4 linked regions of the Homo sapiens genome follow. The protein of the gene in region 1 purifies or fractionates together with the protein of each later gene. This does not show direct contact. Each region holds a gene or a part of one and is shown in the gene's direction. Other genes may lie near its edges.

Region 1 (3,785 bases):
ATGTGAACACAAAGCATTTTGTGTAAGGAGAACCCCTTTCTTTTAAAAGAAGTCTGTCTATTTCGAGGGGAGTTACAGGCAAGTTTGGTAAAAGTTAAGCTAGTATCATAGTCATTTAAAATTGTAATAGATCTTAACCATTTTCCCCCTCACCCTAACTCTCTTATTCTGCCGCCACAATGCAAGCATAGTTTGATGTTTTCGTTATTGCCTTTTTTGAGATGTATGTATCTGTATCTACCTATATCTATATGTGTGTATACATATATAATATATACACACAGATACAAGTGTACACACACACACCACACACCACACACACCCCACTGGCAGTCTTTGTGGATTAGGATGGGGGTGACATAATTTTCTTGAGTTTAACAGGAGTGCTTTACCCAAGTCAGTCATGGATATGATATCACTGCTCTTTATTTAAAAGTAAACTTTGGGCACAGGAACCATATGGGAACATTCAGCTTGTTTAAAAAAAAAAAATCAGAAGTTCAGAGCACCTTTTCAATCTGGAGCCCTTAAACCATAAGTCCAAATATGAATTATTTGTGAACAGTTAATGACCCATATTAGAATTTTACAATCTGGTGAACAATCTGGGTAAAAGGCTACCTTTAATTCTAAGCTTCATTTTTTTTTGGGGGGGGGTTACATTTTAATCATAAATTCTTTTTTGCAAAGCCCAGGTTCTTGTTCCACACAGTGTAATGTAGGTGTATTTTGGACAGCACATATGGTCCATTGTGTACAAGTCAGTAATCTGGATTTCAGTACATGGATTTAAAAGGCAACAATCCATCACTGGTTTGTGTGTTTTTGGTTAAGTTTCTGGAAGAATACAATGCTTTTATATTGGAAGTATAAGTTTTGAGTGGCATTGTTGCCTTCTAACAAGCTCTCTGGGACTTTTAAAGTTTTATTACTATTATTGCTAATGTATGATTATGGTCAGAGACTTTCAACCCACCCCTTCCTGCCTACCCCTGGCTTTTCCTCACAAAGAATGTCTAGACAAACAGCAGCTTAGTCTCCTGACACCTCTTGTGGGGTGCATGTTCCTGCTCCAGGTATGCTGTTCATGTGGATTCATTCCATTCAGTGGCCCCTTGGGGTTTGCATGCCAGTGAAGCGTTACCATAGAAGAGCCAGCCGTTTGTGTTCGCTTGGTAGGTGTAAGTAATAGCAGCCCTTAGCCACGGAGTCTTTATGTGGTTTATTCCTGCAAGGTTGTTTTAAACTGAAATAGAACTGCTAGTGTGATTGGTTGATCAGCAAAACAGCTGCTCTCATTTTGTTTTGGAGGAACCCTGGTGGTTTGACAGCCAGGAGAAAGGCCATATGTGAAACCAGTCTCTTGTGGAGATTGGAAATCCTCCCTGATATTTGGGCAGAGCCTAAACGTGCATGCTTGTCACTCAAACACCAGAAGTTTGAATCAGAGGTCTGAGTGACCTCTTTTGTGGCTGTTCTTGATGGTTTCCAGGCCTCGTTATGCATGGTTTGCTTGATGCCCATTTTTTGTGCCTTGTGCTGTTGGATGGTAACGACCACTCACCATGTAAACACAGTACCTCAGTTTTCTGTCCACAGCTGCAGTCGCTCTGTCCCTCGTGCTTCACTGTGGGCAGCCAGGGACAAGCTTCTGAAAGCAGTGTGATACCCAAGTCATAGGTGCTTCTCGTATGTGAACAGGTGTCATTCTACAGATCTGTTATGTGTTTTCCTGTTGACTCTTAAGAGTCCCTGCATGTAAATCTCAAAGCTGAGCCTGGCTCCCAGAGTCCAGACTGACATTACAGCGCAAGAGTTTGCAAGTGTGTCCAGCATGCACCAACTGTGCAGAACTTGGCTCGGTAACTTTGCGTGGAAAAATAAAGTACATTTTGAAGTATCTTGAGGGTTGGGTCAATTGAGACATTTCTAGCATTACTTAATGACTTGCATTGTGGTTTTTCTGCAAGCAACTTTAATGACTTTTTTTATACCACATGGTCTCCCAGTTTCTAGATGAATGCAACATGATGATGGTGATGATGACGATGAGTTTAATCATTGTTCATTTATTGCCTTTAGGGCTGAGGGAAAGGGAAGGTTTGTTTTTTTTTCTCCCCATTTTCCCCCATTCTGTCTTTCTTTTGGTGACTTACACCACATGTAATGACGCTATGACTAATTCTGCTCCCAAGCCCTTGTATCTTGGGCTTCATTTTAGGCTCATGTGTCAGATCTGCATGCATTGCTTGCATTTTTCTGGTATCTGAATGTTGGTTCCTTGTTCCAGGAATTCAACATTAATTTCCAAAAGTATCATGGGACTTGTGACAATACAAGACATGAATCTATGTATAAAATTTATCGGCCTTTCTCATTTACCTGCTCTAGTATTATTGTATTGTGTGTGCGTGCGTGTGTGATGTCAGGCTGCCACGTAAAACTTCAGAGAAAAATCTTAAAAGCAGACCATCCTTTTTTGCATGCTCTATTCTAAGTAGAATGTTCAATGTAACTGACTAAAATTGCATGTTAAAGATATTTAGGTTTTTTTGTTTTCTTTATTTTTATTTGTTTTCAGTTTCCTGTATATTTGCTTACTGTGCCGTTTTAGTGGTTTTAGGATAAAAATGCACTGGTGAAGCAAATGTAGTGCCAACAGAAGGTGATTTTCCAGTTGTAAATGTCATGCAGCATTTGAAGGGACTGTGTTTTCTTAAAAAAAAATCACAGTTACTTCTAAACCAGATTTCATTTCTTTTATTGTTTTATGTGCCAAACCACGAAGTGCATTGGGCTTCAATCTCTGAACACTGTAGACCCATTAGAAGACTGTTCCGATTGTTACAAATTGTAGTGCCTGAAAACACTCTTAAGCTGATTGTCTTAACAAAATGAAAGTTCTCCAAAGACAAAACAGAACAATTATTATAACAAAATAATTATGGTTGAAATGTCTGTGGTTCCTTGGAAATGCTGCGCTCTTTGTGTTTTTCCATCATTAGTGCAGTTGGAATGAATGTGTATAGGTCAGAGGTCTTCGTGTTCACATTTTAAAATTAGGTAAATGACCTCATCTTTCAAGCTTGAATTCATTTTTAATTTTAATTTTATTTTATACAATGTGTAGACAGTTCCCTGTTCTCTGCATTTAGAAGTATACACAATATAAATCTGTTAATTCTGTAAGTAATTTTTATAATTATGATGTAACTCTATCTTATCCTTAAAACATTTAAAATAAACCCTTTATGTGCAACTCCTGACTGTAAAGTTTGTGCTGATGAGCAACATGTGATGTGTTAAACTTGATTCTGAAAAGTTTTTTGGGCCAAGTAACCTTTTCACCACATGTAAATGTCAGATATGCATAGAAAGAAATAGAATTTTTATTTGATAACATTCAATAATACCTGAAAGAAGAGGAGGCAGTCATCAATATCACACATATATTAAATATTGAAGTTTGCAATTTGACATTGAGAAAGTTTAACTTACAAGATCTTAAACTTAAAAAAATTCTTTTAAATATAATTAAATAATGGGTATTTTATACTTTTCACAAGTATTCTTGCTTTGAATATTTCTTATAATGCTTTTACTCATAAATAATAAACAATGGGATTCTATAGTGAAAAATCACTATTTCTCAATGCTAGGATACAAAAAAATGAAAGTAATATAGGCTGGTGCAAAGTAATAGCAGTTTTGCCACTGCTTTTATGGCAAAAAATGCAATTACTTTTTCACCAACCTAATATTAACACCTATGTATGTTTTATCTT
Region 2 (7,034 bases), on another chromosome or scaffold:
AGGGACAATTAGCACTAATCCATGAAACTTGGAAGCAAATTTGACCTAAGCCTCCATTCAAGTCAAACCGGCTTTCAATTATTTGAGGTGTTTTCTGGGCACTTTCCTGTTTACTCACAGACACAAAAGGCTTTGGCTGGACACCACAGAGTGAAGGAAGCAAAACAGAGCTTCAATTCTTGGTTTTCTCAGATAGAAGTGTCAGTGTGAGACTTTCTATTTAATAGCTAGCATTTACTGAACATTTAATATCTCCTTGGTATTCTTTTAGAAGCTTAGATTGCATTGCATTTTTAATAGTCACAACAATCTTGTGAAGTAGTTTTTATATTCCCCGTTTAGCACATGGGAAAACAGAGACCCCCAGATATTAAGCAAATTGTTCATGGTCACAGAAGTATTAATATAAATGAGGAGCTGAGATTCAACTTTTGCCTGGTCTGTATTGCACACATGTGAATAAGATGTATTGTTGTATCTTTACTGTAGAAAGTACTAGTTTCCCCGCCACCCGCCAACTTGTAATGTTGAGAGTCTGAACAAACTGGTTTGCTTACTCATAAAAAGTATGAAAATTTCTTTTCTAATTATTATCTTTTTTTCCTAGTTATCATGATGTTATGGGGCTCTTTCAACCAATTTAAATTTTGTTTCAAAAAATCATTGGACATTATACTACTAGAGAAATGCATGTAAAGATCATTTTTCAAAGACATGAAATATGGCTTTATGGAAGGACTCAGTAGAGAGACATACAAGTTGGGAAGTACAGGCGGCAGATAAAAATGAACCGGGCTGCAGTTTATCAAATGAAATAACAACTTGCTTTGAGGGAGACTTTTGATGTAATATTATACATGCAATGATAGACAATTAACTGTGTCTAATAGTATAGTAGGTTACTGACAAATTTGTGCCTCCTGCCCCCACTTCCTTAACATGCCAAGTGTGATGCGGAAGGCCAGGTAATCTTGTGTGGGGATAGTAAAATTACATTGAATTGTAGATCATATAATTTCATTTAAAGGTGTATAGCCAACTTTGTAAATCTTGTTCTTTCCACCCTACTGGCAAAGACATTGGGTGGTAAATTTCTGTTCTCTCCTAGAACATCAGTCATAGGCCAGTTTGCCTCTGTTGCTACTGCTATTCTTTTCAAAACAAGGGGAAATTTCTAGAAAGTGTAACTACTAAGTTATAAATATGTATATTTTAGATGAATTTATTCAGTGTTATACACTCACACATGCCATTCTGCAGATTATTCATTGATTGTATGTTAGGAATTAGTGATACAATATTGAAAGAGTTATCTAAGACTTAGGAGTATCAAGAAAATTTCAGTTAAATGTGGGCTGATAACAGCCTCCTAGGATCACTACGCTTGGTTCGTTCAGGTATTGAAAGTAAAGGTCATTTCTAGGGTACTCTTTTTAGTCTACTAAAAATAGAAAATTTGTCTGTTTTGAGTTTCAAAACATAAAGAAGGCAAAGACCAGTTCTTAATTTGCAAAGTTAGTGTGTTTTTCCTTTAATACTTCTTTTGGCAAATTCAGCTGGTTCTAGGAAATGCAGAAGGCTGGCAATGGTAAGATGATAAAAAATCAGGTTAAATGACCAGAGACAGGCAGGCCAGTCCTCACTAAGCCCTGGTTCTCTTAGGAATAGCCCTCTGGATTTATTTAGCCTAAATTTAAACAACATTTAAATTCCTTCCTTTGGGAATCTCTTGAACCTCTTGCTGAAGGTTTGTTTTTCAGTAAAGATTTGCTTCACAACAATTTCTCTTCATTTTTTATTGTGGATATAATAGATACTGTATAATAAATATAAGGACTTTTTAATCCAACTCCTGGTGAGTTTACTCAATGTCTTTGTTACCTATTTATATCATTTTAGAAAATATGAAAACAAACCCCCAAACCCTTATACTCTTACTCTGTTTGGATTCTGTCTTTTGAAGGTATTTGTAGAAACTCATGATGTTTCTTCTTTATTATCTCAGCAAAGACATTTTTGTTTTTAAAAATTGGGTTATGGTGGAGTTAGAATGAACCTTGAGTCAATAGTAACTTGAGATTGATGGAGAGATCAGGCTTCACCACTCCTGGGTTTACTTATCTAAAGGTTACAGAAGGCAGGTGGCACAGAGAGATTGCCAACAAATCTGACAAAAACCGAAGCGTACCTTTCTGAGTTCTTCATAAAGGGTTTCACCAGTGGAACTGAGCATAGTAAATCTTCATGAGTGAAGTTACATCAAAACTTTTGGAAGTCCAGTTCTCCTCCCAGCAATATAAAGCTGGAGATGCACTGTACATCGCTGGTCTAGATAGTTGCAGAGGACTACCTGATCTGAGCCGGGAGTACCTCCTTAGTCTTGACGTATTATAATATAAACTACAACCACAGTGTGTGTTATGGTACAGTGCACTCAGGCATGAACATGACCCTAATTTCCCACCTTCAGCCTCCCCAAGCTAACACAGTTTGTTCCCAGAACTTTCTTGAAAATGATTTTCTTACCCTGATGCCTTTGGGAGCCGTGGTAACAGGCACTCAGACCGGGGCAGTGAGAAAGCACAGTTAATGCAGACCTGAAATTAAGTGCTGTTCATGGTTCTATTACCCCAGGTGGCAATTTATTAAGTTAAGTAAAACTCTAATTCAATTATGTATCAACATGGGAAAATATTAACTTACCTCGTTTTCCTGTTGGAAACTTAAGGAGTATTAAATGTTGATGTTTTGAGGAAGTTCAAACAGCTTTCCTTACCAGTATCTTGCAACAATGGCGAGAGAAGACAAAACTCTTTTCAGACAAATGCTTGGGTGAGTACCAAAAGTTTGAGCAAATCCCTCGGCAAAGGATTTATTAAATTGAGCTTCTTCTCCAGAAAAATCTTTTCCTCCGCTCTTAAATGATCTGACTTTAAGAATTACAATTAAGTTGCAAAATTGTTAACATTGCTCTGTAAGGAAATCAATTCTCATCTTCTCTTAAGCTGGCCTCCTGTAACAAGCTGCATCTGCCTGCCCTGTAGGACAGGATGGATGTCACTTCCATCTCAAGCGATCGCTCGTCGAAATTAGAATCAAATTTTAAAATGAGCTGAAACTTTTTGCTTCCACTTTAGAGTTTTCCTGATTCTCTGTGCTTCCAAATGTGAAGTTTCTACCTCTAGCGAGCAATTATTTTGGTCTCCTTGACTGCTCTGTGAATCCCATGAGGACAAGGCATCAAACTACCAGAGTGCAGAGATCCTACTTGATTCCCTTTATATCCTTCCAACCCCAAACACAGTGCTTTCCTCCATATTAAGTTTCAATGGGTGGCTCACGCCTGTAATCCCAGCACTTTGGGAGGTCGAGGCGGGTGGATCACCTGAGCTTAGGAGTTCAAGACCCACATGGTGAAACCCCGTCTCTACTAAGAATACAAAAATTAGCTGGGCATGGTGGCGGGTGCCTGTAATCATAGCTACTGGGGAGGCTGAGGCAAGAGAATCCCTTGAACCTGGGAGGCGGAGGTTGGGTTGAACTGAGATCCCGCCATTGCACTCCAGACTGGGCGACAGAGCAAGACTGTCTCAAAAAAAAAAAAAAAAGTTTCAATGAACTTTTGATGTAGGAATTAGAATATCTTTAGTTGGTAGAAATCCTCTCTCATTTTAGGGGAAACATCATGTGTGCTCCGTGGAAAAATCACCCCAAGTTCTACATTTAAACTTTGCAGATGTAAGAGTTGGGCAGGAGCACAGGACCCATGAAAGGCCTTATATCACAATTTCTCAATAGTTTAGATATTCAGTTACATTTCTTGCTGCCATGACTGCCCTTTCTCTCCATTGACTCATACAAAATACTTGGGCTTTGAATTATTTGAGGGCATTTTATTATATTGTATCAGGCTTTTCTGAATGTACCTGGTTAGCATAGTGCTTGACACAGCGTGTTCTAGGAGCTTAAAGCTGTTGTTGAAATAAATAAGACACAAATGAATTATTTTAGATAAAAAAAGGCTTTCATTTCTTGAAACACTTACCTCTTTGGCATTTATTTCCACCGAGATCAGTGCAATGTTTCATATTTTGGAAGAGATGAAAAAAGGGCTCCACTTATCCTCTGTTCAATTTATATGACCATCCAGAAGCTATACCCCTAGTGACCACAGAAATACAGAGACAGACTAATAAGAATATAAAATACAAGGCTTGGAGTAAAAGGCAAGGCCACATTTAGGACATGCGTCATGCAGGGGTCACAGAGGCTCATGTATCCTCCCCAGAAGGCTGTCTACACGTAGGTGGGTGGATGTTGAGGGTAGGGAGGGGAGTTCCTGTTGTTCCTACTCCTGCTCAGTGATTCCTGCCCATGGTCCTCATAAGGTTCATGGGGGCTGTTGTTGCAAGATCATGGTGGGTCCCTGAAGCCCCTCTACTGACCTTTGACACTAAACTCTTCTTTTACTCCTGACAATTCGCCCAAACAACACAGAAGGCAGAGAACTCTTGCATCTATTTGCCCTTTCAGTAAGAAGCCTCTAATCTGTTTTAGCATAAAAAATTCATTAAGAATGTACTATTATTTCATCAGTGAAATCCTTAAATTTTAAATTAAATCCATAGGTCTGGTTTAGCAACCGCCGTGCAAGATGGAGGAAGCAAGCTGGGGCCAATCAACTGATGGCTTTCAACCATCTCATTCCCGGGGGGTTCCCTCCCACTGCCATGCCGACCTTGCCAACGTACCAGCTGTCGGAGACCTCTTACCAGCCCACATCTATTCCACAAGGTACCGAGGAAGAGTCAAGGAGATTAGAAAGTAACTTCCAGGCGATTTCTCTGGTGGATATTTTATACAAGTGAATCCTTCTGCAGTACTGACACCATGTTGTTAATTGTAATACATCAGGTTGTCCTGAACGTACCTATCACATTTCAGAAACATAGTTTGTTCTATGATGTATCAGAATATCTCTAGATAAACTGTGCTGTAATATAATTCAATTGCAGTATTTTAAAACAAATTAACCTTCCCAAATAACCATGGGATTTGCTTTTCTTTTGTTAAAATTTTACCTCTACGTTTTACTCCAGTTTGCAACTAACTGGAATTCAATGATGCTTACTAACTGTAGGAATAATAGAGGGAAGGTAAGCTTTGACAAAGTCATTATTTGTTAGCACACAGAGGTGAATGGGATAATGTTAAATTGTAAGATCCGATTATTTTGGATTATGAAAGAACATTCCAGGCATTTGAAACTATATTATTACACAAATATTTAGGTGCTTTAAAAGTATATTTGATAAGAAATTTGAGACTTGCAGTCCTTATATTGGTTAATTCTCATATTGATGAATAACATTCACTACCAAAATATGCTTGTTAGCATTGCTAATATGATTTCTGCATTAGTATTCTGGGTGAGCCTGCCGTGAGAGTATATATGTTACTTACAAGTATGTGCAGAGATAGGTGTGACTGTATCTGTTATGGGTGATTCTACACCTGCAGGTTAAGAAACGCAGTTTGAAGTGAACATTTGATTTGATCAATAGATGCTCCTGATGGCCTGGTGGCTGATGAACTTTTGCACTGAACTTTCTCTGCTGGCCTAAAAGAAAACATGATGGTTGACAATCTTTTTCATTTCAGCTGTGTCAGATCCCAGCAGCACCGTTCACAGACCTCAACCGCTTCCTCCAAGCACTGTACACCAAAGCACGATTCCTTCCAACCCAGACAGCAGCTCTGCCTACTGCCTCCCCAGCACCAGGCATGGATTTTCCAGCTATACAGACAGCTTTGTGCCTCCGTCGGGGCCCTCCAACCCCATGAACCCCACCATTGGCAATGGCCTCTCACCTCAGGTCAGTCCCGTGTTTCTAGACAGACGATTTGCTGTATACCAGAACCAAATATTCAATTCCCTGAGGCAGTAGTGTAATGAATTGCCAAATTTAAACCATAATGTATTCTTTATAGAAGCCACATGATTTCAGTTTTCTGGTTTCCTTTCTCTCCACCCTTCCTACTGGCTTCATCAAAAGTTGTAGCTTAGACTTAAAATTCAAGTGATTTTTGATATAATCTTGGAGACTTTGTGTTCATATTTAGCTGTGAAGGTGTTTGCCATGTTTTGTCTTCTCCATCCTAGTTCTGGGCTTTGGTTAAGAAGCTTGCAAACAGTGGCAGGTTTTTTGTTTTGTTTTTTTGTTTTAAATTGTATTTAAAATTGATAAGGTTTCAATCAATTGATAAGGTTTTAAATTGATGAGGTTTCAATCAAAAGCACCTCATAAGAAAACACTAAAGCTTTGACAAAACAATCAGAGAGGAAGCAAACAAGTCCTGTGGAGAGAGACCCAGCTGATGACTACGAACTCTGGAATAAACGAGTTATAAATGCACAAATTAGGGGAATTACTGCTCTTTGGGACTATATAAATATTTGAATGTTGTAATTGTTTTTCTAATTTGCATTGGACTATGAGCTTTTCTTAGGAGATCACATTAATAAATTGCCTTGATAATTGCATGTGAGAGGGTTGGTTAAATTTCCTACATGTGGCATCTGTCTGAGGTTGACATTATTAGCAGTTGTTTAAATACAGATCCCTTGATTTTATTAGAGAGTGCTTGGCCCAGGTGGCAAGGATAGCTGCCCACTAAATTTGGAGAAATGTCACAAGGGGTTGCAATCTATAATTGCAATCGAGAATCTCTTCAGAGAGTTTGAACAGCTTTATCTGTTCTCAACCCCCTTTTTCCTCTTGGTGGTTAGAAAAACAGAGAGAAGCTCAGAATGACACAAATGAAAAGTGAAAAGACAATTATACTCAATTACACACTAATCACTGACTATCACCGCTGCCTAAGCACCAAGAGGGCATTCTAATAGGCAGAAAATGAGATTTTAATGGCACAAAGGGTGGCCAAAATAACGACTCGTATATCTTTGCCTCTTCGTTTTCTTCAACTTGTGGTGTGTGTCTTGGGAGTGGAATTCCTGGGCTCTGCAAGACAGT
Region 3 (7,583 bases), about 56 Mb from region 1:
AAAAGTGGGGGCCAGGCGCGGTGGCTAACACCTGTAATGCCAGCACTTTGGGAGGCAGAGGCAGGTGGATCACCTGAGGTCAGGATTTTGAGACCAGCCTGGCCAACATGGTGAAACTCCATCTCTACTATTAATAAAAATACAAAAATTAGCTGGGCATGGTGGTGCACGCCTGTAATCCTAGCTACCGGGGAGGCTGAGGCACAAGAATTGCCTGAACCTGGGAGGCAGAGGTTGCAGTGAGCCAAGATTGCGCCACTGCACTCCAGCCTTAGCGACAGAGCACCCTGCCTCAAAAAAAAAAAAAAAAAAAAAAAAAAGTAGGGGATTTCTCCTTTTGTTTTATTGTGTAACATTGATGTGTGTTACAGCCTAGGTAGTCTCAAAATAGGAAATTATCTTGCTGGTTTTTCCAGCTGGGCAATTTATATTTATTTAGTCTTCCATTTATTCCATTTAAATGTTAATTTATTTTGCCATTTACTGTTCAAAGGAAAAGGAGAGCTCTATTCAGAAGACCATATCAGGGATCCTGTAGCATTTCTCATATTTCTGTATTTTTTGCCACTGTGGTTCTTTCTTGTTTCTGTGCCATGACCCCTTTGAGGAACTGAAGAATGCTCATTGTATATATGTTTAGAATAGGACAAGTAATAACAAACTTCCAAATCTCAATGGCTTAACAAAACAGAGGTTTATTTCTTGTTGACATCACAGACTACTGTGAATCAGGTGATCTTCCTCAATCTTACAGCCGTGCCTATCGAATATGAGGTTCCAAGATTGTGATACAAAGATACGGCAGGATGTCTCAGGGGATGATTTTTAGGATCTAAGCTTAGAAGTAGCTTACATCACTTCTGCTCAAATTCTGTTAGCTAAAACTCACTGTCATCTTCCCAAATATTATCTGTGTGCTCTTTGCTATTTCCCAGACCCCTGTTCATGGAGTTTCTGCTACATTCCATCTTTCTAGTCACCAAACAGCTCTTGGCTTCTTTCTTTACCCATGCATAACACACTTAGTCTCTCTCCTTAGGGAGAAATCCCAAAGTCCCATTCCATCATTGCACCCCGGCCCCAAATCCATGATCTCCAGATGATGTAAAATAGTATGTCAGGTTTATATATGACTTCTGTTGATCTGAGGATCAGTGAACTAAGAAGACAAGTTAACTGTATCCTTGTCCCCCAACCACACCCATTGTTCAGTGGTAGAATTTGGATAGCATAGTAGTCACTGGTTCTTGGCAATCCTGAAATCTCACTCCTAACCCGTGTGTGAGAAATTACTTGAATGGGCACTGATTTTGTTTTCTTGAAAGAACACCTTTATCCATCGTTCTTCCTGGTTCCTGGCTCTGTCCAGGGGGTTTGTTCTTTTCATTATCTACCTAGACCACATCTAAATGGTATTGGGAAGCATGCCCTCCTTAGGGGGCTGTATGGGCTTCAGAATCTGCCACCTGCTTGCAGGAGGTTGAATGCCAGAGGTTGTTTTAATTTCAAACATTCTGGCAGGATTCTGTAAACTATATGTTTGGTTTGTCCATCCATTTCCCTTAACATTTAGAAGCATGAAAAGAAAAATATTTGGTAGACATCTAATGTGTTTACTTCTAGTCAGTGTCTCATGCCAGTATCTGTTTTTCCTATACACAGTTACCAGCTTGTCTCATTTCTTTGTCCTTATGCATCTGCCTCTCTCACCTCTGTGGCAGCTATGTGGAGGCCATCTGAGGCAGACTGGTTCAAAGGCTACCTTCATTTTAAACTGATCTTTGCCATAGGGCTGTGTCCCTCTGTTTGAGTTTTATTGGGCTTCTGTTGCTCAGATTTCTTGTGTTAACTTATTGTTTAGGAATTCTGAAGTAGTGTGATTTTTCAATACCACAAGGTCCTGATTTTTTATTTATTTTTTAGATACAGGGTCCTACTCTTGCTCAGGCTGGTTTTGAACTCTGGGCCTCAAGCAATCCTCCTGCCTTGGACTCCCAAAGTGCTGGGATTACAGGCATGAGCCACCATGACTGGCCCAAATTTTTAGATTCTATTAACTTTTTTTTTTTTTGGTCAGGAACAGAAAGTCTCTAGCGTGCACCAAAGTGTTCTCTCGTCCTCTCCATTTTTATGTCGCCTCTCAAATCAGCCACTTTTTGCCTGAGCTCATGCTTCTTAAAGTACATTCCCAAGGCATCCAAGGATCCCAAGGATCCAAACACATACTATAACTTTTTTTCCCAGCTACTTCTTCTAGAACCTCAAGTTCATTAGGCAGTCAGCTTCCAAGTTATAGGAGATATTTTGCTAAATAGTTTGCCACTGCCTTTTGTTTCCATCTTTATCTTTGCTACCAGACTGCTAAGCCAGTGCCCTATAGCTTGATTTTTATTACAGCAGCATTAGTGCCACTTCAAGGCAATGATTTCTATTGGGATAATGCTAGCTGTACTAACAAATTGTTGCCCAAATGTATAATGGCATAAACATATTTATTTTTTCATTGGACTATAATCCTGAGCAGTACCAGGTCAGGGAATGGCAGGGATTGGGGTGGGTATGGGGACAATTCTACTCTTCCCAGTCATTCAGGGACTGGCAGGCTAACAGAATCTATCTTAAACACATGGCTGAAACTGAAATTGAATAATCTGTCTTAAAACTATACAGCTTGTCAGTGGAGGTTCCAAGATTCTTACCACTTGGTTCTGGCTTCAATGCCCATGCCTTTTTGCCCACATCTATATCAAGAATTGAAAAGACATCTGGACCAGCTGCCTAGCCAAAGTTTGTATTCTGTATTCAGTATGTAAGCCAATCAGAAAACTGGTGATTGCGTAACACATTCAGTTGCTGGGGGTACATTACCTCCTTATCTGGAACTGCAGATGTTTCCTTGCAACTTCTTTCTGGGGCCTCCATTTATTGGGGTCATACAAAATAAAAGATTATCCCTTTATCACTTAGAGAACACAATTTTCGTGCCCTTTTTGATTATTTTGTTTCTGAGTGAAAATTTCCCTATTATTTCACTATACCTTAAAATTTTGAATACTGATTGTTCAGATTTAGTCAGCTTCTACTTTGTCTAGGGTCCTTTTAAAGGGAATGCCAGAACTCAAGTACATTTTCCATGTGAGATCTGATGAACATAGAACAGAATAGAACTATCACCTCTGTAGACTTAAGATTTTTGTACTAACTGTATCTTTGTTTTCCTAGGGTGATACAATTCTGGAGACTGGAGAAGTAATTCCACCAATGAAAGAATTTCCTGATCAACATCATTAAAGATTATGTAAAAAGTTAAAAGGCTTATGAGCCTAAGTTTGTTCCTATATTACCATATTTACTGAATTTTCTGGAAAAGTAACTTTAATAAAGTTTAATCTCAGAAATTGTCATATCTGTTTTCAAGCATTGTACAATTTGAGACTGAGTAATTTAACAATAAGTAAAAAGTGGACATGCTAAACAAATATGAGAGACTACCTACTTTTTCTGGTCATTCTTGACTTGGAAAACGGTATGGAAAAGTATTTAGTTACATGTTTGTTTGTTTTTTTCTTACACAGTACTTACACTAATTTGGTATCAGGGTATGCAACAGTGAAATATCACAATAAACAAATGTAAGAACAGCAATTCCATGCACTTTTGTTTTAAGGAAATCTTTCCGGCCAGGCGCAGTGGCTCATGCCTGTAATCCCAGCACTTTGGGAGGCCGAGGCGGGCAGATCACGAAGTCAGGAGATCGAGACCATCATGGCTAACACAGTGAAACCCCGTCCCTACTAAAAATACAAAAAAATTAGCCGGGCGTGGTGGCGGGCTCCTGTAGTCCCAGCTACTGCGGAGGCTGAGGCACGAGATTGGTGTGAACCCAGAAGGCGGAGCTTGCAGTAAGCCGAGATAGTGCCACTGAGCCTGGGCGACAGAGCAAGACTCCGTCTCAAAAAAAAAAAAAGCTTTCCGAATCATTTTTGAAGAATTTAGAAACTTGATTGAAAAGCTTATTCCAACTATGATCTGACACTCAAGACTGTCAGATTTAGGTTGCTGTTAATTTTGTCATGAGAATGTAAAATACTAAAATCTCTAAGTGAAAAATTTGCATACTAGTGCTTGTTATAAAGGATAATGCAAAAATAAACTTGGGAACTTTGCATTATGAATTTTATTTTTATATCTACATAAGCATGAGGGAAAGAACTGTATTTTCAGATAATTAAATCCAGAAGAGTTACAAATTTTCATTCGTCCCAAAGATTTTGTCTGGGTATTTCTTCCTTAGCTGTCGTCTTGCAGACACCATCGAAGCATAGATGATGCAGCCCCAGGAGATTAAAACGATGGCAAGCAGCAACTAAACCAAAAATCGCAAAGGAGGTGTGAAATCTACCTGATATTTCCCCTCGCCCCCGTCAGGTTACCGTTGCCATTGCTAAGGTGGGAATTAAAGTAACAAAGTCGAATAAATGGGGTTCCAGTGGCGGGTACACCCAGCAGCCCTTACGTAAGAAGCGGAAGATCGTATCCTCCAGGAAGAGGCGGAGTCGAGGTGAGGGAGTGAAATGCTTAATTCAGGAATGGATTTTGGAGTTTCTGGGTGCTGAAGAAATAGGGCCTTTCCGCCTGCGGGCCCAGTGAGTCGACACGGTGGGGGCCCGCGATCCCCGGGACTTACCACTGAATAAATCCAGTCCAGCGTGCGACGACTTACTGGCTTCATGGTAAGGAGGCGGCAGCAGTCCGCGGGAGCTGGCGGGAGCTGCGGGCCTTACAGTAACCTCCCAGGCGGTGGCTGCCAGGCGCCAGCAGCCATCTTTTAGCCGGGCACGAGCGCCCGCCCACTCGCTTCGTGCAGCGCTGTCGCTGGCCTCTTCCGCCCGGAGTTGGGGGGCGGTATCACGTGATCGGGGGCCTTGCCCGCCTTTTAGAGAGGGGAATAAACGAGAAAATGTTAAAAATTGCTTTTTTTTTTTTTTTTTTGCCAACTAAGGAGATAGGCGTACCTCCACTGGTTTTCTTTCTAGTTGCAATGCAATATTAATGCAGGATAAGGTGCTGTCGTGTCCATTTAAAAGTTAATTTGAAAAACAATCCACGTTTTAAATATTACGTCTGGCTCTAAAGCTGGAAGAATTAACGCTTTCTCCCCCGCTCCCTCCCCCACGCCTCCCCGCATCTGATACCACACGATTTAGATGGACGTTCGCCTGTTCATCTTTGACGTAAAAATACCACCCACTCTTTTATATGTGACAAATCGTTGTGGGAACCCCTGTAAATCGAGCCATTCTTCAGAAACGTATAGCGTAATGTATATCTCTAAGAAGAAATACGTGGGACGCGTTACCCGCCATAATGTATCAGTCAAGCAACAAGTGTTTGTTGAGCGTGTCTGATGTTCTTGAACTGCCGCGCGTGAGATACTAAGCCCCGAGCACGGCAGTTTGGTGGGCGAGCGTACCAGGTTCAGCTCTAGAATGTTTGGGGCGCTCACATTTGAGGCCTGAGGAGTAGAATCTGGCAACGGGCCGCTTAGGCTCTAGACGTTCTTTATACCTCGCAGTTATCTTAAAAGAGTTTTAGTCTAGATTTCAGGGAGTGGGAAGGGGAAGAGCGGAGAAAAACGTGGTCTGTTTAGGGAGGAGTCCAGGCCCTGTTTTGTTAGGTTGTCCTGTTTCTCCCCAGCCTGGAGGGGATCCCTCTCTGAAGACTTTATAGGATACTGGTTGGGCTCTGGTTTGGGATCCCGTTGGACTCCTGGTGTTGCTTCCGGGAGGCGTACAACAGGAGGTGAGAGACTTCAAGTCCATCTAACAATTCCCCTATCTAGACACTAAAGATAATTTCCTAAGTTTCCGCAGAGTTTGGTAAGGTTGAAACGACATCGAACTAGTTCTCGTGTTTTCCGGGTAAGTTAGGGGCGAACATTCAGTCAGTGTCCCCAGTGGCTGAGTACCAGTAACAAGATGGGGAGGGTCGCGCTGCCCTCCTCCGGGGTCTGGAGCGGCGGGGGAGGGGCCGCATTTGGGCCGGTGCGCTGAGCCCCGCCCCCGAGGCCGGCGTCCATCTGCTGCGCATGCGTGAGGAAGGCGGGTGTTGTGTTTTGATGCGCGGGAGCTGGGGGGTGGGTCTCGCTCTCTGCCCTGCTTCCGAGCTGCCATTGGTGATGAGCCCTTTGCGTCACAGGGGTCGCAGCCGCCGCTGGGGTCTCCGCTGTCTCGCGAGGAGGGTGAAGCGCCCCCGCCTGCTCCCGCTTCGGAGGGTAGGCGGAGAAGTCGCCGGGTACGCCTTCGCGGATCCTGCCGACACCGACCTAGCTTTCTGGGCTGCCGGGAGCTCGCGGCGAGCGCCCCAGCCAGGCCTGCGCCGGCATCCTCCGAGGTGAGTGAGATTCGGAACAATGGGACGCGGGGGTCGGAAGGGCCGTGGGAGTTGGCGCTCCCGCCTGGAGCGGCGCCTCGGGACCCGAGGGTTGCGGTCATGGCCTGCGGGGCTGTCCGGGCCTCGGCGGGCCAGGGCCAGGGCCCCCGAGCGGCTCCTGCGCGCACCTGTGGATTGGTGCGGGCAGGCGAGGGTTGCGCTTCCCACAAGCGCTCCCGAGGGGCGCGAGCCTGGCCGTGTACTGGAAAGAGCTTGGTCTCAGGGAAAAGCAAAAAAGCAATGAGACTGAATCGTGGCGTCACCACTTACAGGATATGTGACCTTGCCTAGGTCCCTTAAATCCCTGAGCCTGTCTGTAAAATGGGAATAACAATATTTAAGTTCGTTGTGGTTATGTAATGCTCATGGTGCTTATCTTAGTCTAGTGGCAGTTCTGAACCAAAGTAAACGACTATCACCGTGGCTTTGGGAGTTGGGACTTGTCTGTGTTGTGTTAAACATTCTGAGCAGAAATTGCCCGTGACTTGTTCATCCATCCATTTACTGCAGCTTTCCTCATGGGTTGCTGATTGTAGGCTGGAAGGGGGCAGTGCTGAGATGAGCCACATAGTGATTTAAGAGGAAAACGGAGTAGACCTTTTGATAGGTAATTTTCAAGATTATTTAAGATAAATTAAGAAACAGCTGCCCAAGATTTAAGTTAATAGTGGTGAGAGCTTTCTGGGTTTTGTCCATGAAATGCAAAGAAAGCTATACAATCAGCTAAAATCAATCATACTTGTCTGGAATGAGTGGTTTTAGAGGCGAACGGTTCCCAGCCAATTCTTTTTGCTGGAATTGGATTAAATTTGATAGGATCTGGATAAATTTGATAGGATCTACTGAGATCCTGTGACTTTTGTATCTTCTTTTGGAGTTGATTAAATGCAGTTCAGAGAGGTACAGTGATTTCTTTAAGGTGGCAAGAGGTAGGAACCAGTTTATTTTTAATACTTGGGTGATCTTTCTATTTCATCTATTCGTGAACCCTTTTTAGTCACTTTGCCTAGAAATATTAAGTATAATAATTATATTAAGTATGATGATTATTTTGTTGTTATAAACTATCCTCTGTCTGGACCCATATAATCAGTTATGGGTGATGAGCTACCGAAATTCACTTCGTGTTCACGTAACATAGAGAACATTGT
Region 4 (6,922 bases), on another chromosome or scaffold:
TCCCATAGTAAACTTAACCATTTTCACCCTGTACGTTATCTTCTAGCTCCTACTAACATCTCCAATTAGACAACCGCTTCAAAGGGTGCTTAGCACCAGGGATTGGGGTTCATGGACTTAGGAGGTGGTAAGGAAACTGGCTGGCACCACCAAACTGCCTTAGTGAACTTGGCCCTTCCCAGGCAGGTAGGTTGGGCATTGAGGGAAGGTGGCCCAGTCTTTGCTGGCAGGGTCTGGCCAGTCTCATGGGGGCACCACCAGTTTGGTGACAGAAGTGGTGTCATTTATTGAATTCCACCTCCGTTTAGAAGGAGATCATGGTACAAAGCCCAGGAGGGGCCTTAAGATGTGAAGATCTCTCTGAGTAAAAGGCAAGGGGCTTCTCTTCTTCACCTCTGGGATAGTTGGTAGATCGGAGAGTTTTATTTTCAGGGTCAAGGCTGTGGACTGATGGGGATATTGGAGGGTGGGTGGGTTTTCCTGAGAGACTTTGTATAATGCTGAATGTGTCCAGAGGGACAAGTTTGCAGAACCTCATATTGGTATATTAAAGAAATAATAAAATAAAAAAGCACTTTAGGTTATTTTATCTTTAACCCGATTGCTGCAATTTCTTTTGTGTGTATATATACATATATATACTTTCCACAAAGTTTTATTTTTTGCTCAGAATAAAAAGTTAAATTGAGGTGTGAAAAGAAAAGCACTTACCTTGGTGCAATATGTGTAGCTTGATGGTCGTTGTCCCATGTGGCCCTGGCCTGGCAGCGTTTTTCCGCTCAATCAGCCCTGTGCTGTGAGACTGTCCATAGGGAAACACTATTATGCATTCTCAGCAACCGCTCAATCTATGCAAGCCTTCCCTGTGTGCCCCAGGGCGCCCCCTCAGGCTCTCTGAAGAACTGCTGTGGGTCCTGTTTTCTGCTGACTGTTGAGGCCCTTTTTCATCACTTCTTGGTCTCTCGCCATCTTTTCCCTCTTCACCATTACAAAATGATGCCTGAAAGGAAGGAACAGATTGTTCCTAGGTAGAAACCTGGCACCTTCTAGACTTTTATATTTGTAATCACATCCATTGTCCTTAAAGACTTTTCCAGAGTGATTGAAACCATTGATTTGTGGAACTGCAACAATATTTCTCAAGAGTTTACAATTGTCTTACACCACCAATCAGAAATATGTTTGGGGAGGCATGGGTGGCAGGGGGCAACATGAGCCATTTCCATACTGCTCCCCATACTACCTGTGTTGGTTCCTTAAGCAAAAAGGCCTCCAGCCTTCATTAAATCCTATAAACAAACATTACATCCCATGAATCATTATCAACTTTCTTCCTTTACTCCACCTCCCCCATTTTATCTTCAATTCTCAGGCTATAGAATAGACAAGTTTTAGAATATACTTCAGCCAAAGCAGAAGGATTTTCATAGATCCAATATGCAAATAGTTCTGCTGTGACATAGATCAGAAATTGTCTGTTCCTTAATATTTGGGGGTGGAGGCAACAAAACTGAAGCATATTTCTGATTGGTTAGCCATTTTGGCCTGTTTCCTCTTGCATGTTTTTTAGGGAGAGAGGGAAACAGTCCTGTATTTCTTCTGATGCCCTTTGGGGAAGCCGACGACCACTGGGCATTTCTCACTGTTACTCCTGTTCAAGAGAGGGCTTCTCAGTCTGCACTGAAAAATGCAAATTAAACTGGATCTTTATGTCAATGTGTACATAGTACAAGCTTTTTTACTGGAATTGAGGTTTAAAACCACACACTGCCCTTTTGGTGGTGTGCCTGTTGGGCCAAAAATTGGGTGATAATGTAGTGTCACTTTCTCAGCTCAATGCAGTTTCTACTTTTTCTTATGGGAAAATTTTTCATAAAACCTTTTTGCACCAAAACCCAGGGGTGTTTTTTGCAATATCCTTGTTATCCTCGTAGTGTGCCAAGTCAGAGGCTTTCTCTTGCCCTTTTCCTGCTGTGTTCTCAGGCCTCCCAAGGGCTATTTGACTCAACAGTCTACATCCTTCGTTGTGTTTTGGAGAATGTGGGGGTGGGGGTCAGAGTTCAAGGTGTCTGTTCCCTTTTCCTGTGAACTCTTTCTAGTCCCTATTTGGGGAGGGTGGCTGGAAACAGATTTTTGCTGAATTTCTGGCTCAGATCTTCTAGCCAGGAAAGGCAAGAGCCCCCAAGAGCCCTTTTTTTTGACATACACTAATCATTGGCCGGGGTCTTGGTGACAACTTTTAAAATCCCAAATAGTTTTATTTGGATTATGTAAAAGTAAGTGTGAAACATGGGAACAACGGACTTCCACTGAGCGATGTGAAAACGTTACAGGTTCAGTACTTCCAAAGGAAGAAACCTCCAAACCCAAAAAAGAATAAATATGAATTTGTATTTTTGAAGAATGTGAAATAATGGTGTTTGCTTAATTGCTCATTTTGTATAAACTTAATATTGTACTTTAAAATATCTGCTAAAAAGTGAAAATTTAACTTTTTGGAATTGAAAAAGCAATATTAAATACTAATGAAATCCTAATTAAATGCTTATTTAAATCTGGTAGTATCTGTGGCATTTCTTACCAACCCTGCCCATAGTTGACATTTTTCCACCACTCCCCCCTTCCCAGCCATCAGTCTTGGAGAGGGGACAGAAAGGAAACGTCGGTCACCAGGAGAGTCTGCAGGTTTCCTTTTAATCAAGGCTCTACTGAAGGTGTTTTGTGGGGCTAAAAGCCCCCAAAACATGAAATGGACATGTAACACCACCTGGATCCCCCATAGCAGGCCAGACCACTCTGGCGAGCACTGCTGGTCTGCCCAAATCTGGGTAATCAGACTGGGTATTCATTGGCTGCATTTCAAAGCACAGCACTGCTTTCAGCCAGGATGAAGTGGGAGTGAACCCAGCTGCTAGCAGAGCTGCCACTCCAGGCTGAGAGCCAAGTACCAGCCACTGCCAGTGAAGACTGGCCCCTTTACTGAAGGGAGTTGTTCAGAGTCCAGCCACCGGCCCTGGGGAGGGAGAGAAGTCAGGGTATTCTGCTCGGGGATGGTCAGGGCTCCGCAGCTCCATCGCCAGCATCCTTTGGAAAGCCGCCTCTGGCGGAGACAGCCGGCTGGGGGGGCGCTCCAGGTTTGGCTGAGACGTTCTAGTTGGAACAGAAAGGAAAAAAGTGAGGCTGGGAGGCAAGGCCTTGGATTAGGCCCCACAAGGATGTGGCCATTTGGCATTTGGATAGTATTAACTTTTTCGAAACCTCTCACCAGATCAAAGGAGGTTAGGGATAAAGCGGCGGAGACATACTTCCCCCCTCCAGGGTAAGCTAGGGCTTGGCCAGCCTAGCCAGTGGGCAGACCCCACCCCACCCCAGCCCAGCCCAGGGTGGGCACTAACCCCGCCACCAGCCGGCTCCGGGCGCCGGCGGCCCAGCTGCCGTAACATCTCCTCGCAGGCTGCGATGGTGTCCAGGAGCTGCCGCTGCCGCTGCTCCACCGCGTCCAGCAGCTGCTGGGCGCGCTCCTCCCGGGGCGGCTGTGGGGGTGGCCTCCCGCCGAGCCCCAGCCCCGCCTTCCCGCGGTCCACGCCGGCAGCCTCCCTGCCCGGGAGAGAGCGAGAGACAGACGGTCAGGGCCGGCGCTTGCGCGGGGCCAAGCCCCTTCCTCCCGCCCCGACGGGCCCCCTCTCACCCCCGTGACCAGTCTGAGCCCGGGCCCCATTCCATCTCCGCTTGCGCGGCCCGACCACCGCCCCCCTTTCGGCCGCCCCCCTCCCCAGCGCTGCGTTAGGGCTTCGCAAGGCTGCGCCCCGCCCCGTCCCCACCGGTCTCCTTCAATCCTCCTGGGGGTCGTGGTCCCTTTAAGCTGCCCGGCGCAGAGGCGGGGCCGAGTCTCCTGGACCGGAAGCTGGCTGGGAGCGTCACTTCCTCCCGGAAGCGGGCCTGGGCGGATGTCTCCGGCGCGTCGGTGCAGGGGGATGAGGGCCGCGGTGGCTGCCAGCGTGGGGTTGAGCGAGGGGCCTGCTGGCTCCCGGAGCGGTCGCCTCTTCCGCCCGCCGAGTCCCGCTCCGGCGGCCCCCGGCGCCCGGCTGTTGCGGCTCCCGGGGAGCGGGGCCGTGCAGGCCGCGAGCCCGGAGCGCGCCGGCTGGACCGAGGCGCTGCGGGCCGCCGTGGCCGAGCTGCGCGCCGGCGCCGTGGTGGCCGTCCCCACCGATACGCTGTACGGCCTGGCCTGCGCGGCGAGCTGCTCGGCGGCTCTGCGCGCTGTGTACCGCCTCAAGGGTCGCAGCGAGGCCAAGCCTCTGGCCGTATGCCTCGGCCGCGTGGCCGACGTCTACAGGTAAGGCCGCCCCGACCCGGCCCCGCTAGGGGCGGCACCGCGGGAGGGGTTTCCGGTGACAGGCTTGGGAGACTGAGGCGCAGAGAGCGGGAGGGGCTTGTCCAGGCTCACCAAGGAATCCGGAACTGGAAATATGTACCGAGGACTTAACGTGCCCCGGGCCCTGAACTACATGCTGCTGGGAAGCAGCAACACACGAGAAAGGCAGGGACCCTGTTCCCTTGGCGTATTTGTGCTAATTGGGGAGGCCCCCGGGAAAAAAGCAAACAAACACAGTAGCTTAATTTAATAGCGAATGCCTTGAAGAAAATAAAACGTGGAGCTTGATCCCACTATCATGATATCACAGCGGTGCAGCTGTTGTAGTCCCTGAGACCAGAGGCACATGGGCGTCAAGCCAGGGGTGCGCCTCTGGAGCCCTGCTTTCTGCTCAAGCTCTTAGGGAGGTGAAGCAGGGAGACAGGCGGCTCCCATTGTAAACTCGAAGGATTCCTTTTCTACGTCTGCCTAGAGTCTAGGAAAGGACCACCAGTGGCCCTTCAATTTTGAATGGATTTATTCTTCTGTGTTTCCCAGATACTGCCGTGTGAGAGTACCTGAGGGGCTCCTGAAAGACCTACTGCCAGGACCAGTGACCCTGGTGATGGAACGCTCGGAGGAGCTCAACAAGGACCTAAACCCTTTTACGCCTGTGAGTCAAGTTTTCTCTTGTGTCCCCAGACTCCAGGCCACTTGGCTTTCACTAGGATCCAGATAAGACTTACCCTCTTATCCCTTCCAACCTTTCTCATGATCCCTTTCCCCTTGCCTTACAGCTTGTAGGCATTCGGATTCCTGATCATGCTTTTATGCAAGACTTGGCTCAGATGTTTGAGGGTCCGCTTGCTCTCACTAGTGCCAACCTCAGCTCCCAGGCCAGTTCTCTGAATGTCGAGGTGAGTTTACCCAGTCCTTCCCCTGGAAATGTCACCAGCGCACATACTGTTTTCTGTGAATCAGTGGCATTGATAGTACACTGGGATGGCCAGGCATGAGAGTTCTTGGGCCAACAGTGGGAAGGTTGCCCAGCTGGCAGGGAGGTGGTGGGGGGCAATATAAATTAAAAAAATTTGAAAGATTTTATCTCAAAGTCTGAAAAGCCAGGGGGAGAATTGGTCTTTTCTTCAGTCTTTATAATAATAGGAAAGATTATAAGAACAATGTCTTCCTGTTTTTCTGGAGATAACAGTTTCTGGAGAACACAGTTAGGCTATAAATCTTCACGACAGTGCTGTAAAGAAAGATGAAGAAGGCCAAGGGCAGTGGCTCATGCCTGTGACCCCAGCACTTTGGGAGGCCCAAGCAGGTGGATCATGTGAGGTCAGGAGTTTGAGACCAGCCTGGCTAACATGGCAAAACTCCATCTCTAATAAAAAATACAAAGATTAGCCAGACATGGTGGCGCATGCCTGTAATCCCAGCTACTTGGGAGGCTGAGGCAGGAGAATCACTTGAACCTGGGAGGCAGAGGTTACAGTGAGCTCAGATTGTGCCACTGTACTCCAGGCAGGGCTCTAGAGCGAGACTCTGTCTCTTAAAAAAAAAAAAAAAGATGAAGTTTAGCCTCCAGAAAGTTAAATCACTTGTTCCAGGTCACACAGCCATTAAGTGACTGACTCAGATTTTTAACCAGTTTTTGATTCTCGCCCCTGTTCTCTTATCTCTGCCACAAGCCAGATCAAAGAAAGGATCATCCTAATCCTTTCTTGGCTACATAGATTAGAACAAAGGAGGACACATAGAAATTTCGTTTTTTTTCTTATTACTAAGATGTAAAACGTAGTAATAAGCTACATTGTGTCCCCAGACTCGGCCAGACACATAGTATCACACATAGTATCCAGCATCAGGCCTTGGGCCTTCCTTGGGCTTATTACATCCAGCTAATAAGCCTGGATAGAGTAACTTGCGTGCAGTCACATAGAGATACGATGGAAAGTCCAGAGTTAGAGCCCGTATCCCTGCTCAGAACTCCATTCGATGGGTTTTCCATTCCCAGACCTAGAGTGGGGCTCAGGGTTCTTAGAAAGTGAGAGTTCAGCATCCCTTCCCATTCTCAGAGTGCAGGTTTGACTTGGTCCTGGTGGCTGTACCCCAGGAGCAAGAATCGGGATGTGGCACAGGGAGGGGAGGTTTTTACCTTGTCAGCAATCATTTGACCTGTCCAACACAGTAACTGGTATTTATGATTTCCTGTCCCAGATTTCCAGGCCTAACTGCCACTGCAGTGTCTTCCTTGGGGGGTTGGGGAAGCTCTAGCTCAGTTAACAATTCAGTCCACTGCTCTAGGGGGAGTATCCTTCTCATAGCCCAAAGACTGAGTGCTGGTGGCATGCAGAATCTACCATGTTCTACTCTTCCTACCCTGATCAGAGTCGCAGTGAGATCCAGGAGCATAGTTCTAGAGCTAGAAGGAGCTGGAATCACTTGTTCCAGGTTACGCAGCCATTAAGTGACCAGATTTTTACCTAGTTTTTTTTTGTTTTGTTTTGTTTGAGACAGTCTCACTCTCTTGCCCAGGCTGGAGTGCAGTGGCACCATCTCAGC

The links.
Region 2: the proteins of SPIN1 (region 1) and PAX3 purify together in Homo sapiens (affinity purification with mass spectrometry; 3 studies listed by BioGRID and IntAct, with this or other methods). This does not show direct contact.
Region 3: the proteins of SPIN1 (region 1) and TOPORS purify together in Homo sapiens (affinity purification with mass spectrometry; 4 studies listed by BioGRID and IntAct, with this or other methods). This does not show direct contact.
Region 4: the proteins of SPIN1 (region 1) and YRDC purify together in Homo sapiens (affinity purification with mass spectrometry; 3 studies listed by BioGRID and IntAct, with this or other methods). This does not show direct contact.

Annotation. Positions count from the first base shown.
Region 1 is NC_000009.12:88,475,436-88,479,220, forward strand, and holds the end of SPIN1 (spindlin-1), read left to right. Parts: 3' UTR 1-3,259; downstream 3,260-3,785. UniProt on the Homo sapiens protein: Chromatin reader that specifically recognizes and binds histone H3 both trimethylated at 'Lys-4' and 'Lys-9' (H3K4me3K9me3) and is involved in piRNA-mediated retrotransposon silencing during spermatogenesis.
Region 2 is NC_000002.12:222,218,982-222,226,015, reverse strand, and holds part of PAX3 (paired box protein Pax-3), read left to right. Parts: intron 1-595; exon of another isoform or gene 596-4,628; coding exon 4,629-4,794; exon of another isoform or gene 4,795-4,930; intron 4,931-5,463; exon of another isoform or gene 5,464-5,620; intron 5,621-5,661; coding exon 5,662-5,876; intron 5,877-7,034. UniProt on the Homo sapiens protein: Transcription factor that may regulate cell proliferation, migration and apoptosis. Involved in neural development and myogenesis. Transcriptional activator of MITF, acting synergistically with SOX10.
Region 3 is NC_000009.12:32,549,584-32,557,166, reverse strand, and holds the start of TOPORS (E3 ubiquitin-protein ligase Topors), read left to right. Parts: upstream 1-4,580; 5' UTR 4,581-4,687; coding exon of another isoform or gene 4,688-4,730; coding exon 4,731-4,733; exon of another isoform or gene 4,734-4,933; intron 4,934-5,359; exon of another isoform or gene 5,360-6,023; intron 6,024-6,198; coding exon 6,199-6,393; intron 6,394-7,583. Other genes in the region: NDUFB6 (NADH dehydrogenase [ubiquinone] 1 beta subcomplex subunit 6), read left to right, coding at 3,223-3,291; SMIM27 (small integral membrane protein 27), read right to left, coding at 4,244-4,366, 4,688-4,732. UniProt on the Homo sapiens protein: Functions as an E3 ubiquitin-protein ligase and as an E3 SUMO1-protein ligase. Probable tumor suppressor involved in cell growth, cell proliferation and apoptosis that regulates p53/TP53 stability through ubiquitin-dependent degradation.
Region 4 is NC_000001.11:37,805,206-37,812,127, reverse strand, and holds the start of YRDC (threonylcarbamoyl-AMP synthase precursor), read left to right. Parts: upstream 1-3,919; 5' UTR 3,920-3,947; coding exon 3,948-4,336; exon of another isoform or gene 4,337-4,338; intron 4,339-4,912; coding exon 4,913-5,027; intron 5,028-5,151; coding exon 5,152-5,271; intron 5,272-6,922. Other genes in the region: uncharacterized protein C1orf122, read right to left, coding at 3,055-3,150, 3,396-3,597, 3,689-3,723. UniProt on the Homo sapiens protein: Cytoplasmic and mitochondrial threonylcarbamoyl-AMP synthase required for the formation of a threonylcarbamoyl group on adenosine at position 37 (t(6)A37) in tRNAs that read codons beginning with adenine.